Homo sapiens: one gene and its partners. The protein of the gene in region 2 purifies or fractionates together with the protein of the main gene of each other region. This does not show direct contact. Each region holds a gene or a part of one and is shown on either strand. Other genes may lie near its edges. The genes, in order: RDH13, L3HYPDH, ALDH7A1, GSTK1, MAPK13, UHMK1 and MMUT.

Region 1 (3,500 bases), on a different chromosome or scaffold from region 2:
CCTGGCTAATTTTGTATTTTTAGTAAAGACGCGGTTTCTCCATGTTGGCCAGGCTGGTCTCAAACTCCTGACCTCAGGTGATCTGCCCACCTCGGCCTCCCAAAGTGCTGGGATTACAGGCGTGAGCCACTGTGCCCGGCCAGGTCTGTGAGGTTTTAAACCACCTGTCTGTGGCACTTTGTTACGGAACCCGAGCTGAGTGGTACAGGGAGGAAGGCCCTGTGGTTCAGCGCATTTTACAGCTGAGGAAACTGAGGCTGCAGTCTCCATCTGTGTGTCCTTTGGTTGCTTGTATGAGTGAGGTGGCAGGTTTGGGAATGAAACCACGCCTGCGGTGCCGGGGCTCCCACCGGTAACCTCCCGTTTTTGGCCTCGGGGCTCCGGCAGGAAGGAGTCCCAAGGCTTAGATGGAGGTGCGGAGGGCGTGTGAGTGTCCTGGAGCTGCTGTAACAATGTACTGCAAACCCAGTGGCTTACACCCTCAGACGTGCATTCCCTCACGGTTCCGGAAGCCGGCAGTCTGAATCGCGGTGTCCCTGTGGCTGTGACCTGTGAGACGGGCCATAATCCTCCCAGCCTCTTCCACTTCCAGCGGGGGCGGCCCACCCTCACCTTGGAGCTGTGCCTCTCCGGTCTTTGCCTCTGTCCACACATGGCCTTCTCCCCATGTGTCTCTGTCTCTGTTTTCCCTTCCTATAAGGACACCAGTCATTGGATTAGGGCTCACCCTAATGACCGCATCCTGACATGGCCACTTCGGCACAGACCCTGTTTCCGGCACAGGCCACATTCACAGGTTGTGGGAGCACAGGAGTGTTTCTGCTGGTGCATCAGGCTGGGGTCTGTCCTCACCGGGATGTCTCCTCCTCCACCCCTCTCTTCCAGAGGAGGAGCGAGTGGACATTCTAATCAACAACGCGGGTGTGATGCGGTGCCCCCACTGGACCACCGAGGACGGCTTCGAGATGCAGTTTGGCGTTAACCACCTGGGTGAGGCCTGGGCAGGGGCTGCACCATGGGTTCAAGCGATCCTCCCCCGTCGTCCTCCCAAAGTGCTGGGATTTTAGGTGTGAGTCAAAAGTGACCTTTTCATCATCCTTAATCCAGGTCACTTTCTCTTGACAAACTTGCTGCTGGACAAGCTGAAAGCCTCAGCCCCTTCGCGGATCATCAACCTCTCGTCCCTGGCCCATGTTGCTGGGCACATAGACTTTGACGACTTGAACTGGCAGACGAGGAAGTATAACACCAAAGCCGCCTACTGCCAGAGCAAGCTCGCCATCGTCCTCTTCACCAAGGAGCTGAGCCGGCGGCTGCAAGGTACGGGGGCGCTAGGCTCGGCCTCCCTCTTGCTTTACTCTGAGCCTAGAGCGGCCTTTCCATGATCCTAGGCTGATGGGAGGCCAAACGGTGGATCCAGAACAGAGTCAGCAAAAGTAGAGCATGTGGACCACGCTGCCCGCTTCTGGTGCCTGAAGCAGACATCACTAATCGATCGTTCTTCTGAGGATTGTCTGTTCATCCCAGGTGGTCTAGTCTGCCTGGATCAGATGTCCTTCCCTGCTGCTGTTGGGCAGGCAGCTCAGCCTTTTGGCTCCAGCCAGTGAGTCTCAACCAGGGGCAGTTTTGACCCGCAGTTGTCAATGCCTGGAAACACAGTGATCACAGCTGGCTTGGGGAGAGATTGCTCTGGGCATCTGGAGGGTAAAGGCCCAGATGCTCTCAATGTCCTACAGCGCACGGGATGGCCCCTCACTCCTCCCAACCCACAGCATCCACAGTGCTGAGATTGAGAAATCTGTGCTAGGCCTTTGCTTCTGAAAGACGGTCTGTGGACCAGCGGTGCCAGCCCCACTGGGAGCTGGTCAGAGTTACAGTATCTTAGGTCCCACCGCCACGCACCGATGCAGGCTCCCGGGGTAAGCTCAGCGTTCTGGGTTTATGAAGCCCTCCAGGAAAGCTCGGCTCCCAGCAGCCATGTGGCAGAGCCGCTCCGCAAGATAAGACCACTTCACTAAGATTCCAGAGCAAGAGGGACGATGGGGTTTGAGTGCAGGAAGCAGCCTGGTGCCCGGAAGCCCCACAGCTGGGTGTGGGCTGCCACAGCCTCCCAGGTGAGGCTGGACCCCTCCCTCAGTCTTCTCTTTCTTTCTTCCCCAGGCTCTGGTGTGACTGTCAACGCCCTGCACCCCGGCGTGGCCAGGACAGAGCTGGGCAGACACACGGGCATCCATGGCTCCACCTTCTCCAGCACCACACTCGGTGAGTCCCCTCCCAGCCTGGGGTCTCCACGTGGAGCCCTCCACCCCTGCTTTCTCAGCCCAGGGCCCAGGACCCTCCCTCAGAGACCGTCCCTGAGGCCTCATGCCTGCTCCTCGCCTACGTCTTCTGAGGCACAGAGCACAGGTCCCTTTCCTCCGTTGACCTGGCCTGCCAGCCTCTAACAGCCCCGGGAAGCAGGCAGAGCCCTGCTGGCGGATGAGAAAACCGTGTCTCAGAGGAAGAGGCCGTGGAGCTGACGCCTGGAGTCAGGCTGTACTCAGGGTAACTCCAGCTTCACCCCAAACCAGCTGCACCTCCTGGGGAAGAGCTGTTACCCCTCTGAGCCTGTTTCTTCATCTGCAGAGTGCAGGCCTTAATAGGACTCACCTCACAGTCACTGGGGGGGTTATACGAGACCTTCCTTGAAAGGGCCAGCACAGGACCCCGCCCAGAGAATAGGTGGAACAAACAGTTGGAGCTTTACTTACTTATTTTTGAGATGAAGTCTTGCTCTGTCGCCCAGGCTGGAGTACAATGGCATGATCTCCACTCACTGCAACTTCCACCTCCCAGGTTCAAGCGATTCTCCTGTCTCCAAGTAGCTGGGATTACAGGTGCACACCACCACACCCAGCTAGAGGTGGGGTTTCACCATATTGGTCAGGCTAGTCTCAAACTCCTGACCTCAGGTGATCCAACTGCCTCCCAAAGTGCTGGGATTACAGGTGTGAGCCACCACCCCCAGGCAGTTCATGCTTTATGACTAGTGTTTATAATCCTGAAAAACATGGAGTGGGTGATTGGTTGGCATCAAGAATCTTAACTTGGCGAGGCTAATAGCCACGCCTGTAATCCCAGCACTTTGGGAGGCTGTGGTGGGCGGATTACCTCAGGTCAGGAGTTCGAGACCAGCCTGGCCACCATGGTGAAACCCCGTCTCTACTAAAAATACAAAAATTAGCCAGGTGTGGTGGTGTGCACCTGTAGTCCCAGCTACTCAGGAGGCTGAGGCAGGAGAATCGCTTGAACCCGGGAGGCAGAGGTTGCAGTGAGCTGAGATCACACCACTGCACTCCAGCCTGGGTGACAGAGCAAGACACCAGGTCTCAATAAATAAATAAATAAATGTCTTTTTTTTTTTGAGACGGAGTTTTGCTCGTCACCCAGGCTGGAGTGCAGTGGCACAATCTTGGCTCACTCCAACCTCTGCCTCCTCGGTTCAAGTGATTCTCCTGTCT
Region 2 (4,052 bases):
CTATGTGCCGATTACTGTAGAAGATACGAGAAGTACAAGGAATAAAACATAGGCTTTTCCCCTTCTTGGAGTTTAGTTGGACAAGACAGATTTTAAAATGCTTTAAAATACACTAAGCACTATTCTAGAAAATTGAAACATATCTCCTTAAACTACAAAAAATTTTAAGGATGAGAGGGAAGCAATATGATAGGCCAGGGTTCCAACCCTAGTTCTGCCATTAGTGTGGCTTTGGTGTCTTGTGCAAACTGTAACTGCTATTTCTCCTAAAAGAGTTGTTTTGAAAATTCCACGTATGGGGAGTTCCTGGCACAGATTAGGGACTCGAAAGCCAAAACTTTAATTTCCAGTGGCAATAGGTTTCTCAAGAGGACCAGATGTTTACATTTGTCAATCAGCATATTCTTCTCCAAATTTCATTTATTTAGTTACTCATTCAACAAACATTCATTGACTGACTACTCTTCTAGGCACTTAGAATACTGTGAACAAGAAAGAGTTTGCATTTTAGCCTGGTGGGGTGGAGATGAACTCAGCAACCCTCTGAGGTGGGTACTGTTGTCATCCTCATTTTGCAGACTGTGATACTGAGGCATGGACTCTCTAGCACAAGGTCACTGAGATGGGGAGAGGTGGGGCAGTGACCTTGAACACTATGTCTGCCTTGTATGCATTTTTCAAAGTAGAGAATATAGCATTTCATTTTCTTAACTCAGTGACCATTAATGCCCACTAATCATTGTACTGTCATACAGTGATGCTCTCAGGAACTACTGAGAGGAACTACTGAGGTCAAGTGGTTGACTGACCCTGCCCTAACTGACCCAGAAATGAGATGTAGTTTGTGTTCCTGCTGCCAGCTGCCATTTCCTACAGAAGTCTAGAGTGTTTCTACTCTGCTGCTGGAGTTGCCTAGGGGGAATTCTGGTAGCCACGCTAGTTAAACTGTTGAGGTTTTAAAAATGGAATCGTAAACATAAATTCTGTCTCCCTCAAGTGGCCTCCCAGTCTGGAAGTGACACCATTCTCTGGGAAAATGGCATCAATTTCTCCAGAGGCATTCTTCGTTAACTCGTGGATTTCAGCTGCCTAAGGTTGCTCTAAAAGTGCCTGTTCTATCAGTTATCATTCATAATCAGGCTAATCTGAAACCTAGTTCTTCAGGGGGAATCAAGGTCCAACTTTCTAACAGATGATTTGCATGGCTTGAAGATTTTTAAGAAAAGGATAACTCTATTCCTGGTAAACTGGCTCCTGGCTCACTTCCAGTCACAATGACTAAAGCATTCTTACTGATAGAATTCAGCTCCTGGGAGGTAGTAGTCTGATGAGAAACCAGATGCCAGCTTGCCAGGTCATCCCTCCTGTAAGGGTTATGGTTATAGAGATGCCCTGCTTTACATGATAAGCTGTACAAGGATCTGTACTAGAGAATCCAGCAAAACCTTTTAATGGCTCAATAGGCCTAGGGAACTTTAGCGATCATATAAACCTTGCAATCTATCTCCAGGAATACAGTATCTTGCATACTCTCATTTAATCCTAACAAAAAAACTCTATGAGGGAAAAGAAGAAACACAGGCACAGAGAGATTAAGTAATTTGCCTAAGGTTGCACAGCTTTAGGGGGTTATCAGGATTTGAAACCAGGCAATGTGTGTTCCTGTTCTTAAAGAAAAGCAACATTCGTATCTTAATGATTTATAAACTGCTTTGTTCATTCATTCTCATTTAATTCTTCAAAGAAGTGGGGGAGGTGAGGAAAGGAGACCAGGTTTAGTAACTTATTAAGTGTGATTCTGTGTCTACCAAGCATATTCTCAGCCAGCCTGGAACCCTGGTACATTGGCTGTTCTTCGCTCTTTCCTTGACCCCACCGTACCTTGCTTTATCCACCGGTGAAATCTCTAGGAATGCCTCACCAGTGCAGAGGGAGGCGCTGAGTCAGGGTAACACGCAATTCCTCGCTCCTCAAGGGTCTCCCAAAACCACAGGCGGATGGGAGTCAGGGAAAATCGAAATTACACGCACCAAATACGCAAGGCTGCTGACACACGTTGGCAGTGATTTACCTTTCTATTAATTGCAAGGTTTCGCGGAGTAGGTTAGTTGCCAGAGTTCCAGCCCAGAAAAACCGTTAATGTAGTTAGTCGCGTCCCGGTTGCAGCTCTGCCCTGGGCTGGAAAGGTCCCGCCCATTACCTGTGGCCAGCACGAAGGCCGGGACGCTGTGGAAGCGCACCGGTCCGTGGCTGCGGCCGTCCTCGCATGCCACGAAGGCGGTCACCAGCCCGCAGGGGCAGTGGATATTGACGCGGGCCTCGCGGGTGCCCGCAGGGGGCGCCGGCACAAGCCCGAAGTCCAAAGCGAAGCGGCCCAGCGCCAGCACTGCGTGGCCGCACATGGAGCTGTAGCCCTCGTTGTGCAGGAACAGGACGCCCAGATGCGCGTCCGGCAGCTCGCTCGGGACTAGGACCGCCCCGTACATGTCCCGGTGCCCTCGGGGCTCGAACATGAGCCGTCGCCGCACGTGGTCAAGGTGCTGGCGCATGTAGCGCCGCTTGGCCAGCAGGGTGGGCCCAGACACCTCCGGACACCCCGCCAGCACGATACGCAAGGGCTCGCCGCCCGTGTGCATGTCCACCACCGACAGCACCGGCGTCCCTGGATCATGCGGGGGCAGCCGGGGCACCGCCAGCGCGCTCTCCATGGTCTGCGTCGGGGGAGACGAGTACGGTCCCGCAGCTATGGCTTCAAGCCCGACCCTCACCCACTGACTCCGCGGGAGGAGGGCGGGACGCTAACCAGCCACGTCCGGGGGGCGGGGTCTCGGAGCCTAAACCCGGAAGCGAGGGAGGAACTTCGGAGCTGTCGCCCGGGTTACCGGGAGGCGGAGCCGCCGAGCTCGCTGTGGCCCGGATGTTCGGTGCAGCTGCCAGATCCGCTGATCTAGTGCTTCTCGAAAAAAACCTTCAGGCGGCCCATGGGTGAGTGGTCGCCAAGATCCCGGGAAGCGTTTCTGGTAGTCCCGACTACTTTCCTACACGGCTGGCCTCGGGCTCGGCTCTTTGTAGGCGGCCTTCGGTTGGCGGCGCAGGCTCGCCCCTTGACCCCGCCCGCCCTCGGGCCGGGCTCCGCACTCCTGCGGGGTTGGGGTGGTCTGTCCGCAACGGGCTACTAGGGGAGGCGCGCTGTCTGCGGCGAAATGCCAGGTCTTTGTTGTTTGGTCCGAAATGTCTCTTCAGTCCCTTAGTTTAATGTCGAGGGAACACTTGCTTGAGGGTTGACTTCGGAATTGAAAACGCGGGTGATAGTGCAGAAAAAACAGTAAAGCAGAAGCAAGTTGCTGCATAATTTGTCTACTGCTTCAACCTCAAACGTAGATTTATAGCGCCCGTCACAAAGGGCAGGACCGCTGCAAAAAAATGGAATCTTAAAACTTTAGCCATCGTTCGCTAAAGGAAATGAAAGGAGAAATTCAACAGTCGCTTGGAGCCTGGGTTTTGCTTAGTAAGTGATAGGCTGTTTATTTCAGTTCAGTTTATCATACTGGTTTTCAGGCCTTGGATTTTGAGAAACTTTAGATTATTGATATTCACGTGTATTTATTAAGCATCTACTAGATGTAAAGCCCATACAGAAGTTTCCAATTCCTTACCTTCTGCATTCTTGAAAAACCTGAAATATTCATTTTCATGTATTAATTTAGAACATTGTGATTACAATTGGTTACAAAAAAAATAAGCGCCCATTAAAGAGGCCAGTGGGTTTAAAAAGCTAAGTCCGAAATTTGTTAAAAGCGAAAATATTAAACTGGAGGAATATTATTCAATGCTGTTTCTCTTTTTCTCTCAGCAGCATAAGGAGAAGGAAGTAAAAAGTCTGCTTGAATGTGAAAGGAGAGAAGGCACTGTAGACCAGGCAGTCTAGATTGTGAATTCGTGAATAATTTGGGAAATGATTGTTCAAGAATAGTCAAAAGATGCATAATTTTTCAAATTAATTCACATGTAGACCGCAGTTTGTTTTGAGACGGAGTCTCCTTCTGTAGCCC
Region 3 (3,500 bases), on a different chromosome or scaffold from region 2:
GAGGAACAAATTGAAGGCATATGTTTTAATGAACATTATAACCAAAAAAAATTGAGTCCTTGTGCTAGAAACATGTAGAAGAAAAATTATAAATTTGTTTCAAAGAAAGCTTTCAGAATCAGTTTTACCTAAAATCTATAGCTAAGATTATCACTCCCACATACCCTCACCCATGATTTCTTCCTGCCAACCTTCTCTCAATAGCTATATCAGTATTTGGCTTGATTCATGTTCAATATTGACAACAGCATGTCTAGTTAAATACTGCTCGCAGCTGGCCATGGGACATATTATGAATACCTTTGCTTCCCAGATACATTTATAATTGTTTAGTTTTTCATTTGCTTACTTCTCTGGGCCATAATTCAACCCCAAATTATTTGCCATTTGTCCAGATCTCTCCACATCCTGATGGATCAGGTTGTCTACAAATGTCATCTTGTTCAAAGGCCTCTGCTCCATTCTAACCTGGCAGGAGTAGAGGGGTGCCATGCAGAAGGGGAGCAGAGAATGCCAGGAAGGCAGGAGAACAGGGGCCTCTGGGCTGAACCAGCCCAAAGGCTCCTGTGCAGCTTCCCAGTGAGAAAAGGTGAGACTGTCAGCAAAGAGAAAGTGAACTTTGCCCAGCTCTCTATGACCACATGCTGCCACACACACTGAGGATTGAGAACAGATCCAAGGGCAACCGCAGACGCCTAAAGCTAAAGAAGGTGGTCTAAGGTTGTATAAAAAAATCCAGATGCACTTTTTTTTTTTTTTTTTTTTGTAGACAGGATCTCACTGTTGCCCAGGCAGTGGCACAATCTAGGCTCACTGCAACCTCTGCCTCCTGGGTTCACACAATTCTCCTGCCTCAGCCTCCCTAATAGCTGGGATTACAGGTGCCTGCCACCACACTGGGCTAATTTTTGTATTTTTTGGTAAAGACGGGGTTTCACGATATCGGCCAGGCTGGTCTCAAACTCCTAGCCTCTACTGATCCACCCGCCTCGGCCTCTCAAAGTGCTGGGATTATAGGCGTAAGCCACCTTGCCCAGCCTCCAGACGCATTTTCTATACAACTCTGCACGGGCAATTTTGGCCTCAGAGTCCTCCAGCAGGTGGCAGACTCCAGCACAGGAACAAAATCTGTCTACCCCAGAAATCTCTTCCAAGTTGACACAGCCTTCATAAGCAAGAGCCATAACTGTGATGAATGCCTGTTGTCATTTTAAGCACTGCAAGTTATTCCACATGAATACTGAACTGTGGTCCAAGCATACAGGGGAATGCATCCCCCTTTCAATCACACGACATCCAACACATGCCATAGGTGGGTAATGTCAAGCAATATTCACCCCCCGCCCCTGAATCCTTCACTTGGTCAGGAGACACCCTGTATCTACTGCAAAGACTTCTGTTTTCTCCTCGGTTCTGTATTTTCCCAAATTCCTACCCTGGTACGTACTATTTTTTTCTAATTACAAAATAATCATTAACTTTTAAAAAGCCATGTACAACTAGTTGACATAATAAAAATCCACCTAACTCATCTTTTAGTAACTATGGCTATGTTGTAACAATTTTATTTTGATTTTTAAAAAAGGAATCTCTTGATTTAATCAGGGCTTTGGGGTCATAGGGGGATTAGTCACTGTCACAGTCATAATAATGCATTTATTCAGGGAAAACTTTAATTTTCTTTGTCTTCTCCAAAAACAGCTGCTGGAACACCTCAAATTAAGGGATGTTCATCTAAAACACCTTTACTGAAACTTGATTCCTTGGGCCAGAGGAAGGTCTTTACTGTAGTTGATAGTACTAGTGGGAAAAAATAACAGAATTAATGACAGTACATACATAACAGAAGATTTTCATGCCCACTTTTAAAATGTAGCAGATCTGTATATATTAACAAGGCAAGATCTCCAAGTTACAACTTTTTAAGACAAACCTTTAAGATAAAAGACAATGTTAGTATGGATCCCGTTTTATTTAAAAGAAAAAAGACAGAAACATAAAAATCTGGAAAGACATACCATACATGGTTTTTTTTGTTGGTGGTGGTTTTTGTTTGTTTGTTTGTTTTGTTTTGAGACAGGGTCTCACTCTGTCACCCAGACTGGAGTGCAATGGCACAATCTCAGCTCACTGCAACCTCCGCCTCCCAGGCTCAAGCGATTCTCCTGCCTCAGCCTCCTGATTAGCTGTGCACCACCACGCCTGGCTAATTTTTGTATTTTTAGTAGAGACGGGGTTTCACCATGTTGGCCAGGCTGGTCTTGAACTCCTGACCTCAAATGATCCACCTGCCTCAGCCTCCTGAACTGCTTGGATTACAGGCATGAGCCACTGCAGGCGTGGATCACCTGAGGTCAGGAGTTCAAGACCAGCCTGGCCAACATGGTGAAACCCGGTCTCTACTAAAAATGCAAAAATTAGCCTGGCATGGTGGTGCAGGCCTGTGATGACAGCTACTTGGGAGGCTGAGGCAGGAGAATCGCTGGAATCTGGGAGGCGGAGGCTGAGGCTGCAGTGAGCTGAGATCAGGCCACTGCACTCCAGCCTGGGTGACAGAGCAAGACTCCATCTCAAAAAAAAAAAAAAGTGTGCCCTCAAAAGTGCAAGAAACAGCCCAGCATGGTGGCTCATGCCTGTAATCCCAGGACTTTGAGAGGCCGAGGCAGGCAGATCACCTGAGGTCAGGAGTTCAACAACAGCCTGGCCAACACGGTGAAACCCAATCTCTACTAAAAATACAAAAATTAGCCGGGTGCTGTGGCTCACGCCTGTAATCTCAGCACTTTGGGAGGCCAAGGCGGGTGGATCACCTGAGGTCGGGAGTTCGAGACCAGCCTGACCAACATGGAGAAACCCCAACTCTACTAAAAATACAGAAACCACGCACGAGACCATTTCATTGTTGGGTGCTGGGCACTAGCTGAAGCTAGACAAGAAGGCTAGAAAAATAGCACCAAATAGATACTTAGAGGAGACAGCTGTGGAATGCTGGAAAAATCAAATCAAATGACACTGCACAAAGACAGCACAGACAGTAGGAAAGTGTAAAAGCCCATTCCCAAGGGTTTTAAGCCCAAACCTATCTTCCCAAAGCCTTTTCTTACCAAGTAGACCTTCTCATGTACTGTTTCCAGGCATCACTGCCAGACTCCCTGCCACCACCAGTGTGCTTTTCTCCTCCTAGAGAAATAAAAAATAATATCATATCTTCTGAGCAGTTTCCATGTGGGCTCATAGTTGGTATCAATGAAAAGAAGATACCAAAAGGACACCAGAACAACCTGATTATTTACTTTACATTTAGCCCACAATATCTCCCCTGCAAACAAATCAAAGACAGAGACCAAGAGACCAAAACAAACAGAAAAAAGGAATTAAGAGGGAAAATAAAATATAAGGAATTAAGAAGAAATGGAAACAGAAAGAAACGGTAAAAAAAAAAAAAAATCCCATTAGCTGGGCGTGGTGGTGCATGCCTGTAACCCCACCGTGCCCAGCCC
Region 4 (3,175 bases), on a different chromosome or scaffold from region 2:
TGGAGTTTTCTCAGAATCTGCACTGAGGGTTAAGGGAGGTATCTATGAAAGGGTGTGCAACTTCCCCAAACCGCAGCAACTCCAGCCAGTTTCCCGGTACTGCCTTGCCCTGGTTTTGCAGGTGTGGCTGGACCCAGTTTAAATATCTGGCCACAAGCTCAGCCAGACTCTGGTTCCCTCGGCTGTTCACTCCCACTGGGCTTCTGGTCCCAGCCCCATCTCAGTCACTGTGGTTGGTCAGAAGACAGTAAATCCCAAACTTGATTAGTTGCAAAGTCCATCTGGCTTGGTTTTCTGTTGCTGATAGAGAGACCAGGGGAGTTTCTGTGTGAGAGAACGGGGGACTATTCTCACTTCTTCCACCGCACAAGCTGCTCAAGGTGGGCTGCATGGCTGGTCTGGCTGGAAATACTGAAACAGCTCTCCTTCACCTACCCCTAGAGTAGGCAGGATGTGACCCCAGGAATGAGAATATACCAGGGCAGATACAGACACAGAAATGTTTTGCCTGATGGCATTAGGTTTATTTTGTGGGAAAGCAGAATTGGGGCTCTCTGAAAGGCACTTGTGAGGCATAGAAGTAAAGGTTGCCACATGGCTAATGGTGGACGTCTTCCTGGCATCCTTGGGGGTAGGGGAAAGACAGACAGCTCCCAGGGCCACAGAAAATACCTCTATCAGATAGAGAAATCCGAGTCCCAGTGCCTTATGGTGGAGCCAAGGGTTAAGCAGATGGCCTGCTTTTTTTATACGAAGAGTTTGCTTCCTCCGGGCAATCTTAAAGTCTGGCATTCACGGCTGGAGGTATAGGGCCCATCCACTTCTCTCCTGGATGAAGAAAACAACAGACTCTGCACACTGTTCTCAGGTGTTCTGGCAGCAGGAGTTGGTCCCACAAGGTCCCAGGGGTTTTCTAGAAAGACTTTTGCTTGGCTTCAAGGTATAGAAGGCTTCCTTTTCTTTTATGGGGTTGAAGACAGCCCCTGCCCACTCAACCTTGAACAGCACTGACTGCATAACGCTTTGTTACTGGAAGTGCCAAGAATATTTTTTTGCTCTGAGCCCCTCCTTCTGGTCAACTGATATAGTGGGTGTGGAGCTGGGGTCAAAGGCAGCTCAGGGTTGAATCTTTTTATTTTTTGAGACGGAGTCTTGCTTTGTCACCCAGGCTGGAGTGCAGTGGCGCGATCTCGGCTCACTGCAACCTCCGCCTCCCAGGTTCAAGTGATTCTCCTGCCTCAGCCTCCCACTGAGGCAGCTGTAGTCCCAGCTAATTTTTATATTTTTAGTAGAGACGGGGTTTCACCATGTTGGCCAGGATGGTCTTAATCTCCTGAACTCGTGCTCTGCTCGCCTCAGCCTACCAAAGTGCTGGGATTACAGGCGTGAGCCACTGCACCTGGCTCAGGGTTGATTCTTTAACTTACTTACCCAGCAGGTGCGCCAGCAGCTCCATCCGGTCAGAGCCAAATAACATGTGGGTTTGGCCATCCACATGGGCCACGGTGATGGGCAGCCCAAAGGCCTGGAGAAAGCAGTTACAATGCAAGGAGGAAGGCAAAGGAGCAGGTATTAGGCAGGGGTTGAAACCTTTGAGTCAGTACTTTTCTGAGTTCACAGAAGCAAAGAGGTCTAAGAGGCTCTGTGGCCCCAGGTGCCTTCCTGTTTCTAAGATGCTCTCTTTTCTCTCACTGTGCATCTCCTTCCCTTCCTTTCCCTGAGCCCAAGGAAAAGAAGGAAGAAGATGAGGGTTGTTTAAGAGCACTGAGGAGAACACTTGGAAAGGGGGCTTTTGTACAGGAGCATAAGGACTCAAACTTAGAGATTCTCAAGTCTCCATCTTCAGGATGGGTGCTGGGAACACACATAAAGAGCTGCTCACTCCGTATCTGCAGGCTGCCTCAGTGGTCTCCTTGAGCTGGTTCTTCACCTTTGGCGTTGCGATCTTTTCCAGAAGTCCCTGGGCTTGTTCTGCAGACATACCAGCCTTCTCTGCAGCCTAAGGGAATATAGTAGGGAATACAACTGTGTCTGCATGATATTGGATGGGGATCTCAGAGGAAAACTCTGGTCTTTTTATTTTCTGCCCCCAAGTTTTGCTGGCAATGCCCTTACCCACCCACAAGTGGAGATCTGTCCTTGCCAAGAGGAACTATTTCCTTTATCCCAAATCTTGAGATGGGTGGAAAAGGAGAAAAGGTAGATGGCACAGAGTCAATCACAGAAATTAACACCAGCGGACATCTTAGAGAGCAGCTAGATAGACCTCTTTATTTCACAAATGAAGAGCCTGAATCCAGAGGTGATACATTACTTGCTCAGAGTTACAGAGCATGTTGGTAGCAGAGCCAACACTAGAATCCAGGTCTCTAGAATTCAAGTCCAGGGCTCTTTCCTTCCTACCTCTCACAGTTCCTAAGTATCTCATGCTTTTTTTGAATCAAGAGCTAGGCTGTAATTCCAGTGGAACTTCCTGAGAACTTTGTAACAAGGCACATGGCTGCAGCCACCTACCTGGCTTCAAGACAAAGATAAAGGCTTCAGTTTGTGGTTTGTTGGTATAGTTTGGGATAGATGGTTCTTAACTTTGGCTGCCCATCTGAAACTCCTGAGGAGCTTTAAAAAATCTCCACGTGAGGTCATCCCTTAGAACTAGATCCAAGCACTGTGGCTCATGCCTGTAATTCTAGCACTTTGGGAGACTGAGGCAGGAGATTGCTTCAGCCCAGGAGTTCGAGACCAGCCTGGGCAGCAAAGTGAAACCCCCATCTCTACAAAAAATTTTTAAAAAATTAGGCATGGTGGCACATGCTTGAAGTCCCAGCTACTCGTAAGGCTGAGATGCGAGATCACTTGAGCCCAAGAGGTTGAGTCTGCAGTGAGCCATGATCATGCCACTGCACCCCAGCCTGGGTGACAAAGCAAGACACTGTCTCAAAAAAAAAAAAAAAAAAAAAAAAAAGAAAGAAAGAAAAAAAAGAACAAGAACAATTACATCACAATTCCAGGGGAAAGGGTTAGCGCCAAGGTGCTCCAGGTGATTTTAATTCACAGCCAAGATTGACAACCACTGCAACTTGACTTCCTAGATCAGAAGTGGGACCCAGGAATTCATGTAGCCTGTCCTAATGAGACACTATCTTTGACTTGGTTAAATTAGAGAATTATGTCCTAC
Region 5 (3,500 bases), on a different chromosome or scaffold from region 2:
ATAAAGTGTCTGTTGAAGGAAGGAATCCCTAGATGGAGTTTGGCTTTTCCAGCAAAGGATACAATCTTTCCCCTTGAACAGAGTTTTCCCTGTCAGCATCTCTGCCATGATACAGCCCACAGACCAGATGTCCACTGCAGAGGGAGGGAGAGTGTCACCTGGACTGTCTGGGGCCCAGCAGTCAGTCAGCACCGAGTGACCAGATGGCCCCAGGACCGCCCTCTCAGGCATTGACCACTGACCTGTCTGGTTGTAGTGCATCCAGCTGAGGATCACCTCGGGGGCTCGGTACCAGCGGGTCACCACGTAGCCAGTCATCTCGGCGTCTGCATGTCGCGCCAGCCCAAAATCCAGAATCTATGGCACAGGGGATAAATAGAAAAGGAACTTGCTGAGGGGAGGAGGCTCTGGGAGCGGCTTCCAGGGGCTTCCCTGGGGGAGGGCCTATCCCGCCTCTGGGCTGAGCCTGCAGCCCACTCACCTTCAGTTCACAGTCCTCATTCACAGCCAGGTTGCCTGGCTTCAGGTCCTGGGGGGAGGACAGAGAATGCATGCTAGGCTGAGGCAGAGATGGAGCTTGTCCTAGCTCCACCACCACCCAGGGGTGTGACCTCAGCCAGGCCCCTTCCCCTTCTGGGCCTCAGTTTCTTCATGTGTAAAATGAGGGTTGGACTAGGTGTTCTCTCAGGGCCCACCCAGCTCTAAAATGTTCCTGATTCTTGAAGCCTGAAACACTCAGCTCAGGGCTCACTTTGTCTGCAGCAATTCCCCATGAAGTCCCCTGGGACACAGTGACTCTTTTGAGCAGGCCTTCCTGGGCCGTGGCTGGGTGTGAAAACTCCACATTCTGTGCTCCTGGGCAGTGTCCCCTCCCTCCAACTTTCCCACTCCTTGATTGCCAGAGAACCCCATACCCAGGGATGGGACAGGGGCCTCTGAGGACCATGGCAGAGAAAGCACTCACCCTGTGCACGACCCCAGCAGAGTGGATGTACTATGTGGGAGAGAGAGAAGGGTGAGTCCATGGCCCAGCTTCCACACCAGGCACTTCAGGCTGGCCGACCTGTAACAGTGCGCTCCCTCCAGCCTCCCCAAACCTCAGGTCTAGACAGCAAGGCGTCCCCTCTGCCAGCCTCCAAGTCCCCACCCACCTTAAGGCCTTTGAGCATCTGATACACCAGGTACTGGATCTTCTCCTCACTGAACTCCATCCCCATGATCTTCTGCAGATCCGTCTGCATGAAGGGCATCACCAGGTAGCTGGAAGGCATGAGGGGTTCTTGGAACAGTGCCGGGTCCCACCCAGCCCCAGGTCAGAGCTCAGAGGAGGGACCTCAGGGCAGAACAGGGGTCATAGAGACACCCTCCAGTGTGCAAAAACTCAACTCCACCTCAGCCAGCCAGATCACCACACGGGCCTCTGGGCTCCTGGCTCCCAGTCTCCCTGTGGCGGGCCGCCCAGCTGGCAGAGCTCGGAGTAAGCGCTGCAGTTGGAGCGCGCTCAGGAAAGCCACATGGAACTGTGTTCCCGCTCTTCAAAGGTACTCTCTCCTTGCCCTCCTCCACACCCCAGGGAAAGCCACAGCTAGGAGTTAGAAACATCTGCCAGTATTTCCTTCGGCTTCTGTCCAAATATTTGATCCCTCAGAGGGTCATGCCCAGCTGAGATGGCTCCACAAACAAACAATATGTCTACCTTTCCAAGAAGGAAACAATACAACAGTTTCCAGGAGGGTGGAAGAGGGAGATGGGGAGGCTCCTGCAGCCTCTTAGGGGATTGCACAACAGGATAAGGCCAGCAAAATGTAACTGTTACAGTAAAAGCAAAGACCAGGACAAAGACAAAAAATAATAAAAATTATAAAATAGGCCAGGGGCATACCTCCAATCCCAGTGCTTTGGGAGATGGAGGCTGGACGATCGCTTGAGGCGAAGAGTTTAAGACCAGCCTGAGCAACATAGGGACCCATCTTTCTTTCTTCCTTTCTTTTTTTCTTTGAGATGGAGTCTTGCTCTGTCGCCCAGGCTAGAGTGCAGTGGCGTGATCTTGGCTCACTGCAACCTCCACCTCCCAGGTTCAAGCGATTTTCCTGCCTCAGCTTCCCTGAGTAGCTACAACTACAGGTGCACGCCAGAACGCCCAGCTAATTTTTGTATTCTTAGTAGAGACGGGGTTTTGCCATGTTGGCCAGGCTGGTCTCGAACTCCTGACCTCAGGTGATCTGCCTGCCTCGGCTTCCCAAAGTGCTGGGATTACAGGCGTGAGCCACCATGCCCGGCCTGGACCCCACCTTTCAGAAAAAAAAAAAAAAATTAGCCAGGTGTGGTGGCATGCACCTTTAGTCTTAGCTACTCAAGAGGCTGAGGTGGGAGGATCACTTGAGGCCGGGAATTCGAGATCAGGATGAGTAACATAGTGAGACCCCATATCTATAAAAATTAAAACAAAACAAAAAGCTGGACATGGTGGCATGCATCTGTAGTCCCACCTACTTGGGGGGCTGAGGCGGGAGGATGGCTTGAGCCTAGGAGTTGGAGGCTGCAGTGAACTGTGTTTGTGCCACTGCACTCCAGTCTGGGCAACCCAGCCCTATCTCTAGAATATAATAAATTTAAAACTTTTTTAAAATGAATGTTACCTTAAACAATTATGTAATAGGTTGTGTTTTTTGTTGTTGTTGTTGTTGTTGTTTTTGAAAGGACATGCTGGAGGCATCTCCAGGAGACTCTGGATTTTGGCAGCCCTCTCCTGCCGGACCACACACCTCCCTTGGGGGCCTCTCCATGCCCAGTCCCCTCCTGTGTCTTTCCCCTCCACTCGGGCACTGGTTCTTTCATCTTGGCAACATGCTTCCTGAAGCCTCTCTGTGCTAGAACCACATTCCCTTGACTTTGCTTCTTCAACTGACCACCCCTTCTCCCTCTCTCACCACCAAACTTCTAGAAAGGGCGGTCCACACTCCTGGATCCCACTGCCTTACCTCCCAGTCCTGAGTTAACCTGGTTTCTGCTTCCCTCCTACTGCCAGACTGCTCAGCTCAAGGTCACCAGTGAACACCCGACAAACACACCATGACTCCCTTTTCTTCTGATCTAACCTTTCACCAAGTCTGAAACTCCCTCTCAATTCTTTGCTGACTCTCCTCTGCCTCCTATCAGGCCCTCTCAGCTTCTTCCATCTGCTCATCCTCTTGGATCTTCTCTTTCATGTTGATATCTGAATCAATACTATCTTACCACATTCTACAATTATCTGTTCCCGGGTGTCAGCTATAACCCATCGGTGATTATTCCAGCACAAATCCACATCCCTAGCCCAGACCTTCGTCTCCTGAGGTTCATATTTATTTGCAACTGTGATTAAACATTGGAATGTTCACAGTTTCTTTAAAAGTAAAGTGTCCAAAATGGAGTTCGTTATCTTTCCCCCAAGATCTGTTCTTCCTCTACCGTGTATTTCAAGCAGGAACCTGCCCATTCCTCCACCTCTGCCACCTCAC
Region 6 (3,500 bases), on a different chromosome or scaffold from region 2:
TGTTAAGAAGTTATAAAGGAATGTTAAATTATTTAAGATATTTCAAAAAAGAATTAAGAATGGAAGAGTAAATTCTGCTGGAAAAGATAGGGCAGCTTTACAGTCTGCAAAGTAAATAATCTACAGAGATGCAGCTTAACTTTTTTTTATTATAATAAACATACTTATTTCCATAAGGTGCTGTGACTTTGCAGCTAGTGCATACTAATGCCACCCACTGTACCCAATGTGCAAAAGGAAATAATGGAGATGGCTAACCTCCAGTTTTCTGATCCTTGATTTGCATAAGTGGTGATGTACACCAAATACACAAAAGCTGGAGTATAAATATTTATTTTTAAAAATTAGGCCAAACTGAATATAGATATTTAATCTGGTTTCACAAACTCTTAAAATAATTTTCTGAGGAAACAATGATGAGGAATGTGTAGGAAAGGCAATGTTTCTATGCTAGCGGTACCAAACCTGGAACTTTAAGTATCATTTTTTAGCTCATTAACTATATAGAAGATTACTAAGACCAGTAAGGGAGCCATTTTCTTCCCCTCCTCTATTTTTATTACTTATCTCTCTCCTCTTTACTCTTAAAATTGGCAATCTTCTGACAACCCAAGCTAATAAAATAATATAGCTATATATAATTCAAATAACTAAAGAACTTTTGAGTCCATATATGCAGGATTTTTGAATACCTCACTACATTTGCTCTTATACCCTCACTGTCCTGGTATCATAAATATTATTAAGGGAAGATAACTTAGAAGGGGAAAGCAATTCCAACCTGGGATAAAAAAGTGATTACAAATAATTATCTTGTTGATAGTAAGGGCTTATGGTAACAAGTAGCTCTGATTTTTCACATAAAGATCCCCCCCCAAAAAAACAAAATACAAACAATTCCAGTTTTTTTCCCCCAGAATGTGACTTATTTCCATTATACAAAGCAGTATAACAAAATAAGCTCTCTTCTGCACAAAAAACGATTAATGGTTTATAAGACAAATAAGTAGAATGCTTCTCTTTGCCTTTAAATTAAAATACTATGAACCTAGGTAACAAAACATACATGGCTTTCTTCAAAAGGGCCACAAGATTTCTTCTGGTTATTGTGACAGCTACCCAATTTAATGGGAAATAACACTCAAGCAGTCATTTGGTAAGTTTCCCATGAATTTCAGCATTTACAGTGCCACAAACACAACTGCCACAATTATGACAACTCTCTGAAAAGCACAAATAAAGCAAATTTAAAACATTAATCCTCATAAGCAGTACAAGGCAGAACAAAAGTGCTGAGTGGTAGGAAAATGAATAAAAATTTCCTATCAGGAGAATAAAGTTTGTGTAAACTATCTTATATCCTGAAGATCACTTTAATGACCACCTATAAAATACAAAGTTTCCTAAATACTCTCTGATTTATAGATATTTCTCTTACAGTCCACTGCTCCTATAAAATTACAGCAAAAAATATTAAAATTATTTACCTTCTTCTTAAATATCCATGGCACTTGTCAAGTACATGCTACTGTGAATCTACTGGTCATTATATAATTTAAAAATAGTGAAAAACATCTGAGGGAGGTGGCTACAATAACGAACATGACATATCCTATAGTATTAGGCAGAGAAGCTATCCTAAAACAAAATGAAACAAAATCTTTACAATTCTGGGTACTCCAAAAACTAAAATATCCATGTTCTTCTGTGATTAAGAATGGGACTTATCTTAATATACCACAAGAGGCTCAGCTCTGTATGATGGAGACAACATTTTTATATTCATCAAGAAAGCTAGTAAGTAATACTAACTTGAAAAACTACCATCTCAAAATAAAGGTGATTGACTGAGCACCTTAAGAAATGGGGATTCTTTTGAGCTAATTGTGACCAAGTACTTGTCTATATGTGACCATAATTGACAAGAAATGAAATTATATCACAGAGCTACAGTAGTAAAATTTGATGAAGGAACCTGATATTAAAAACAGAACTAGAGATCCAAGGAAGAATTAAATTCTGCCAGACAATTCTGGCTTTTCCATCATATATAATATTGGAATAAAATCAAATATGAATAGTTTTACATATACAAAAAAATAAGGTAAACCAAGGCTATTTCCAGGCAGACAGTGAATATATATATGAAAAATAAAACAAAGGTAAACCCAGAAAATTTTGGACTTTTATACTATCATATGTGACTCAATCTAAAAGTTACTCCAGGAAAAAGGCAGAAGTGCTATTAATTATCATCATCTGGGAAGCTTTCACCCAAATGAGTTTTAATATTTTCCAGCAAACACAAGGCACTTGCTTAAATCTTTATCTACACAGCCATCAGACTCAAAGTCATGATGTGATTCCAATGTACCCGAATCTGAATAAAGCCACCTAGCATGTACCCCTGCATAAGTGTCTAGGTAAATAGATGGTTACTGAGTGTCTCCCCTACTCCTTCACCCAGTAACTATGTTGTTACAATTACTATCATTTACAATGGTGCTGATTTTCATTAAATTAACTGTAAAAAAAAAAAAAAGTCATGCTGCCAAGTATACTGATAGTAGAACTTATGTGTAAGATAGGCCTAACAGTCAGAAAATAAGACCTAAAACAAAAAGATACCCAAATGTTAGTTATCTGCATGATAAATTAACTAAAACAAGCCATGAAACAGCATCTGATAAGTGCTCTAACTCCGCCTTTTATTCCAGAAAAGTAACTGATGCCCTTACCAGAGTGAAGGTCCAGTGTAATAAGACAGAAAAAAGCCTTCTGCCCATGGTTTCTCTTCAGCTTTCTCTATATGGCAGCATTCCTTATAATAAACTTGCTCAATAGTTAAAATATAAGCAACATGAATCTAGAAGACAAGTTAAATAAGTATTTGGAGATTTTCTTTTAAAAAATAATTTAACATATCTCAGCACTCTTTAGCAGCTGGAGTACCAAAAAGAAGGCAATATTTCTCTCAATAAAAACAAAGAGAAGTTCGAGTAAAACCATACTTATGGTTTTTGTTCTAAAAGCAGCCAGTTTGGCTCAAGGCATAGCAGAAAGGGAATCCCTCTAAAGAGAGCTGCTATATTGGTGGCCACAAAAAAGGAAGACATCCAGTGGTAATAAATGCGGATCTCTTATTGCAAGAGAATAGTTTTAAAAATTCCTTTAAAAGGCAGTCAGTACTTTTAGTTAATGCTGTCTCTTACTGAGGTGTCCAACTCTACTTGTTTTTGTCCTGTAAATACAGCATTAGTTTTGACAGTGGCTAGCTAGCTACCCCCTCCAAATATATTTCAAAAGAATCAAGTATTTCCCACAAAATAATCACTGTATGTGCCTTTTCTGGGTGTACAATGTGCCACAGTAATACCCCAAAGAAGTAACTGGGAAGGTGAGAGGCAAGGAAGCACAGGTATTAATTTAGGGAATGAAACACTACCTGAGACAAAATTTGCCCAAAAGGGTAGGGGTTAAGTGACATGAACCCTCACCTC
Region 7 (3,500 bases), on a different chromosome or scaffold from region 2:
ACTATATGTTGAAACAAAATGGGATAAAATGCATGGCTTTAAAAATCAAAGATTTCAGTTTGATTTACTGTGACATTTAATACTAAGCATATCCCAGACAGGTTCTTTCCACCACAATCACTACAAAAACTGTATTTCCACTATTCCCCTAAAATTTCATGTTAGGTAGAGTACATCACACATATCCTGCACAGCCAAGAAAAACTATCTTTACCAAGAGTTAACCAAACATAAAATGCTTGCTACACAATGCTTGCTAGAGTTTGGAGATAACAGTAATTACAAGGGTTGATAAAGATAAAAAGGGTTGATGACGATTTTCTCTGTGCCATGAAATAATGATCTAACTTTAACGTAGGTAAGGAGAAGGAGTACGTTGCTGGTAAGAAGCAAAGAGTGAATAATGGGGGGAAATATAAACAAATTGCTCACAGGAAAATGAAGGAGGAAAATGTGTCCCTATGGAAGGATTTTTCCCATCATTCTTATTGGGAAAGATGAGCCTAATTCAAGGGTGAATATTAGGGACCTCCTTGAGGTTGCAGATATGAGTGATAAGTGATATCTTCCAATTCAGCTTTTAGCAGAAATAAAGCTGATATTCCAATCCCCATTTGTCTGATACCAGTGTCTACTTCACAACTGCATCTGAATTTCGGAGGGAAATTTAAAAATGTAAGTAGAAGACCTCCCTGAATCTAACAATTATCAGAGTTAAATTTTAGGAATAAAGAAAACACAGTAAAGATCTGTTGCCCAGATTCCTGCAAGTAACGACAGAACATAAAATTAGTACATTAAAAACAAAAAGTAACAATAACAAAACATTCTAAATTTATATTACTCAGACTAAATTTTTAAATTCAGTTATAGCATGTTGTAAAAATTCCTACATTCAAGGAACTATAGAAAAACCTATAATAACCACAAAGTATACCTTTGCTGTATATTCAAATATGTCAGCAATAATTTTCATGGATGGTTCTGGAGGAAAAATGTATGTATTTCGAACCATAAATTCCTTTAGTATATCATTTTGGATGGTACCAGTAAGCTTCTCTTTAGGTACACCTTGTTCTTCTCCAGTTACTATAAAATTTGCAAGAACTGGAATAACTGCTCCATTCATAGTCATGGAAACTGACATTTTTTCTAAAGGAATTCCATCAAAAAGAATTTTGGTATCTTCCACAGTGTCAATAGCAACTCCAGCCATTCCAACATCACCACGAACTCGAGGGTTGTCTGAATCATAGCCACGATGTGTCGCCAGATCAAAGGCAACTGATAATCCCTGCTGACCAGCTAAATATATAAAGAAAAATAATGTAAGATTCAAGAGTCTGGAATCAAGGTAAAATGATTTACTTTTAACACTACTAAAAATGTTGATTCATCTCATAACAGTACACTTTTATAACAACTATTTTTATGCTCATACATGTCAAAACCAACTTAAATAAAGATACTTCACTTCTTAAGAGAGTCAGTTGTTTCCCTTGTGCCAAAATGCACAAATTTAGTTCCAGACCTCACTAAAGGAAAGAATGGGAGAAACAACAAATCTCAATCATCTCGTATCTATCTGAAGATATGGTACTTGATTGAAATATTTCTAAAATTCATGAAAAGATCTGGCTGTTCATATATGGCAAAAATAACTTAGCATTTGTATGCTTGCTTACTATTTTGTTCTTTTATCTAATATGGTCACAAAGGATTCCTGGCTATTCAAATATTCTGGAAAACAGAATTATGACCATCGTACAAAATTTTTAAATAACTAAAATAGTCTATACTAAATGTAAGTTCAACCTTCCATGGGCAATACAAACTTATAAATCTACAAGTTTAGTATTCAAACAGTACAATTTTATTACAGCTCAGAAAGAAGAAATAATAGTTAAGATAATTTTCAGTGAATGAATGCCAGGTTGCACTGAATATGTTTGTACCACGTTATCACATTTACACTTTCTTTGGGCATCATCTAAACTATCTTCCTCTCCAATCGCTATCCCAACAATGTTAATTGAACATTTTTCGAAGGCAAAGCTAATGTCTTCTTTTCTTCATGCAACTTTACCTCACCTAATTCCTTTTAAACAACGTGCATGTGTTGTTTTCTTTCAAAAATTTAGCACCTTATTCTAATTCACTTATCTTTTTGACCACAGAAGTTAAAAAAATCCACTTTTTTCAGAGTATAGTCTTTAACTACAAAATTATAGAGTGAATATCATCTTTACAGAGATTAACCCCCAAAAAATAAAAAACTAGGAGGCATATGACTTATCATAAATATTATGTCTTACATTAAAATCTCACCCTTAATGTTGTCCTTATAGAACTTATTGCTTTCTTCCACAGTACTAAAACCAGCATACTGGCGGATGGTCCAGGGCCTAAAGGTATACATGGTAGGATATGGTCCACGTGTGAATGGCTTCACTCCTGGAAGTTCTTCAGGTAAGTCCATAGTATCTCTCTTGGAATACAAGGGTTTTATAGAGATCCCTTCCGGGGTGTGCCATATTAGGTCTTCTGGGTTTTTGCCTTTCAGCTGCTTTTTAGCCAGGGCAGCCCATTCTGGGTGAAGGGGCTGTTGCTGGTGTAGAAGTCGTTGCTGTATGAGCCTGGAGCCTGATGATTCTTTTACCTGCCTCAGGTAATGAGGTGAAAGTAAAAAAAGCTGATTCTTAGCTCTTAACATGGTGGAGCATGGAAACACCCAATAGAAATAAGAACTGACCTAGAAAAAGAAACATAGAGTAAAAACATTTAGAAGAGGGGGTGGGAAATAGGAGCTACTCATAAGAAAGGAACAGAAAAGAAAGAGGATGTATTAGTCTGATTTCATTTCTTCCCCTTTTCTGCTTCCTGCACCTGATATTTTATAACTTTGGCCCCTCTTCTTCACAATTACTATCAGTCCTGTAGTTTCAGTCTTTTTCCTCAGTAGCCTCTTAGCTGGTCTTACTGACCAGTCTTACTCCTTTTCTACTCCATTCTATACGAATCCCTTCCATACAATGACATCAATGTAAATATGACTATGTCACACTCCTCATGGAATTTTTCAAAGACTCTGTATCATGTGGAAGATATACTACAGCCTCCTAATTAATTTTTTCATTCAAAGTGCTTTTATTAAATATCAGTTTATGACCGACATTATGTTGGGTAATAGAGAAAAAAGTGATGAATAAGACAAACAGGCATTCAAGGCCTTCATGAACTGGTCTCTGTTTCCCCCTCAGACCCATCTCTGTCTTTGTCCTCTTTATGCATTTTGTGCACTAGAAATACTGGATTACCTACAGTTGGCTGCACATATGTCAAAGTTTTCTGAATTTGCTCTTGCTCTTCCTTCTGCCTAAAATGTTCTTCTCTGGCTAATTCAGCTAAGGCATTATCTCCAATTTGCAGCGTTTCTATGTGCCAGTAACATAGAAGGCTATAAAGACATCACAGAGAGTAGCAATTTTAATCTTTACAAT

Evidence for each region.
Region 1: the proteins of L3HYPDH (region 2) and RDH13 purify together in Homo sapiens (affinity purification with mass spectrometry; 2 studies listed by BioGRID and IntAct, with this or other methods). This does not show direct contact.
Region 3: the proteins of L3HYPDH (region 2) and ALDH7A1 purify together in Homo sapiens (affinity purification with mass spectrometry; 2 studies listed by BioGRID and IntAct, with this or other methods). This does not show direct contact.
Region 4: the proteins of L3HYPDH (region 2) and GSTK1 purify together in Homo sapiens (affinity purification with mass spectrometry; 2 studies listed by BioGRID and IntAct, with this or other methods). This does not show direct contact.
Region 5: the proteins of L3HYPDH (region 2) and MAPK13 purify together in Homo sapiens (co-immunoprecipitation; one large-scale study listed by IntAct). This does not show direct contact.
Region 6: the proteins of L3HYPDH (region 2) and UHMK1 purify together in Homo sapiens (affinity purification with mass spectrometry; one large-scale study listed by BioGRID and IntAct). This does not show direct contact.
Region 7: the proteins of L3HYPDH (region 2) and MMUT purify together in Homo sapiens (affinity purification with mass spectrometry, with the first as the bait; one large-scale study listed by BioGRID). This does not show direct contact.

The regions. Positions count from the first base shown.
Region 1 is NC_000019.10:55,046,149-55,049,648, reverse strand, and holds part of RDH13 (retinol dehydrogenase 13 isoform 1 precursor), read left to right. Parts: intron 1-885; coding exon 886-990; intron 991-1,107; coding exon 1,108-1,320; intron 1,321-1,391; exon of another isoform or gene 1,392-1,603; intron 1,604-2,160; coding exon 2,161-2,262; exon of another isoform or gene 2,263-2,544; intron 2,545-3,500. UniProt on the Homo sapiens protein: Retinol dehydrogenase with a clear preference for NADP. Oxidizes all-trans-retinol, but seems to reduce all-trans-retinal with much higher efficiency. Has no activity toward steroids.
Region 2 is NC_000014.9:59,481,609-59,485,660, forward strand, and holds the start of L3HYPDH (trans-3-hydroxy-L-proline dehydratase), read right to left. Parts: upstream 2,801-4,052; 5' UTR 2,709-2,800; coding exon 2,201-2,708; exon of another isoform or gene 2,072-2,200; intron 1,968-2,071; exon of another isoform or gene 1,882-1,967; intron 1-1,881. Other genes in the region: JKAMP (JNK1/MAPK8-associated membrane protein), read left to right, coding at 3,463-3,508. UniProt on the Homo sapiens protein: Catalyzes the dehydration of trans-3-hydroxy-L-proline to Delta(1)-pyrroline-2-carboxylate (Pyr2C). May be required to degrade trans-3-hydroxy-L-proline from the diet and originating from the degradation of proteins such as collagen-IV that contain it.
Region 3 is NC_000005.10:126,543,220-126,546,719, forward strand, and holds part of ALDH7A1 (alpha-aminoadipic semialdehyde dehydrogenase isoform 1 precursor), read right to left. Parts: intron 3,181-3,500; coding exon 3,105-3,180; intron 1,801-3,104; coding exon 1,746-1,800; 3' UTR 1-1,745.
Region 4 is NC_000007.14:143,266,441-143,269,615, reverse strand, and holds the end of GSTK1 (glutathione S-transferase kappa 1), read right to left. Parts: intron 2,000-3,175; coding exon 1,883-1,999; intron 1,526-1,882; coding exon 1,432-1,525; intron 829-1,431; coding exon 779-828; 3' UTR 501-778; downstream 1-500. UniProt on the Homo sapiens protein: Glutathione S-transferase that catalyzes the conjugation of glutathione to exogenous and endogenous compounds. Significant glutathione conjugating activity is found only with the model substrate, 1-chloro-2,4-dinitrobenzene (CDNB).
Region 5 is NC_000006.12:36,133,513-36,137,012, reverse strand, and holds part of MAPK13 (mitogen-activated protein kinase 13), read right to left. Parts: intron 1,261-3,500; coding exon 1,152-1,260; intron 995-1,151; coding exon 965-994; intron 530-964; coding exon 482-529; intron 358-481; coding exon 243-357; intron 135-242; coding exon 63-134; intron 1-62. UniProt on the Homo sapiens protein: Serine/threonine kinase which acts as an essential component of the MAP kinase signal transduction pathway.
Region 6 is NC_000001.11:162,525,318-162,528,817, reverse strand, and holds part of UHMK1 (serine/threonine-protein kinase Kist), read right to left. Parts: 3' UTR 1-3,500. UniProt on the Homo sapiens protein: Upon serum stimulation, phosphorylates CDKN1B/p27Kip1, thus controlling CDKN1B subcellular location and cell cycle progression in G1 phase. May be involved in trafficking and/or processing of RNA.
Region 7 is NC_000006.12:49,456,754-49,460,253, forward strand, and holds part of MMUT (methylmalonyl-CoA mutase, mitochondrial precursor), read right to left. Parts: intron 2,753-3,500; 5' UTR 2,714-2,752; coding exon 2,329-2,713; intron 1,306-2,328; coding exon 938-1,305; intron 1-937. UniProt on the Homo sapiens protein: Catalyzes the reversible isomerization of methylmalonyl-CoA (MMCoA) (generated from branched-chain amino acid metabolism and degradation of dietary odd chain fatty acids and cholesterol) to succinyl-CoA (3-carboxypropionyl-CoA), a key intermediate of the tricarboxylic acid cycle.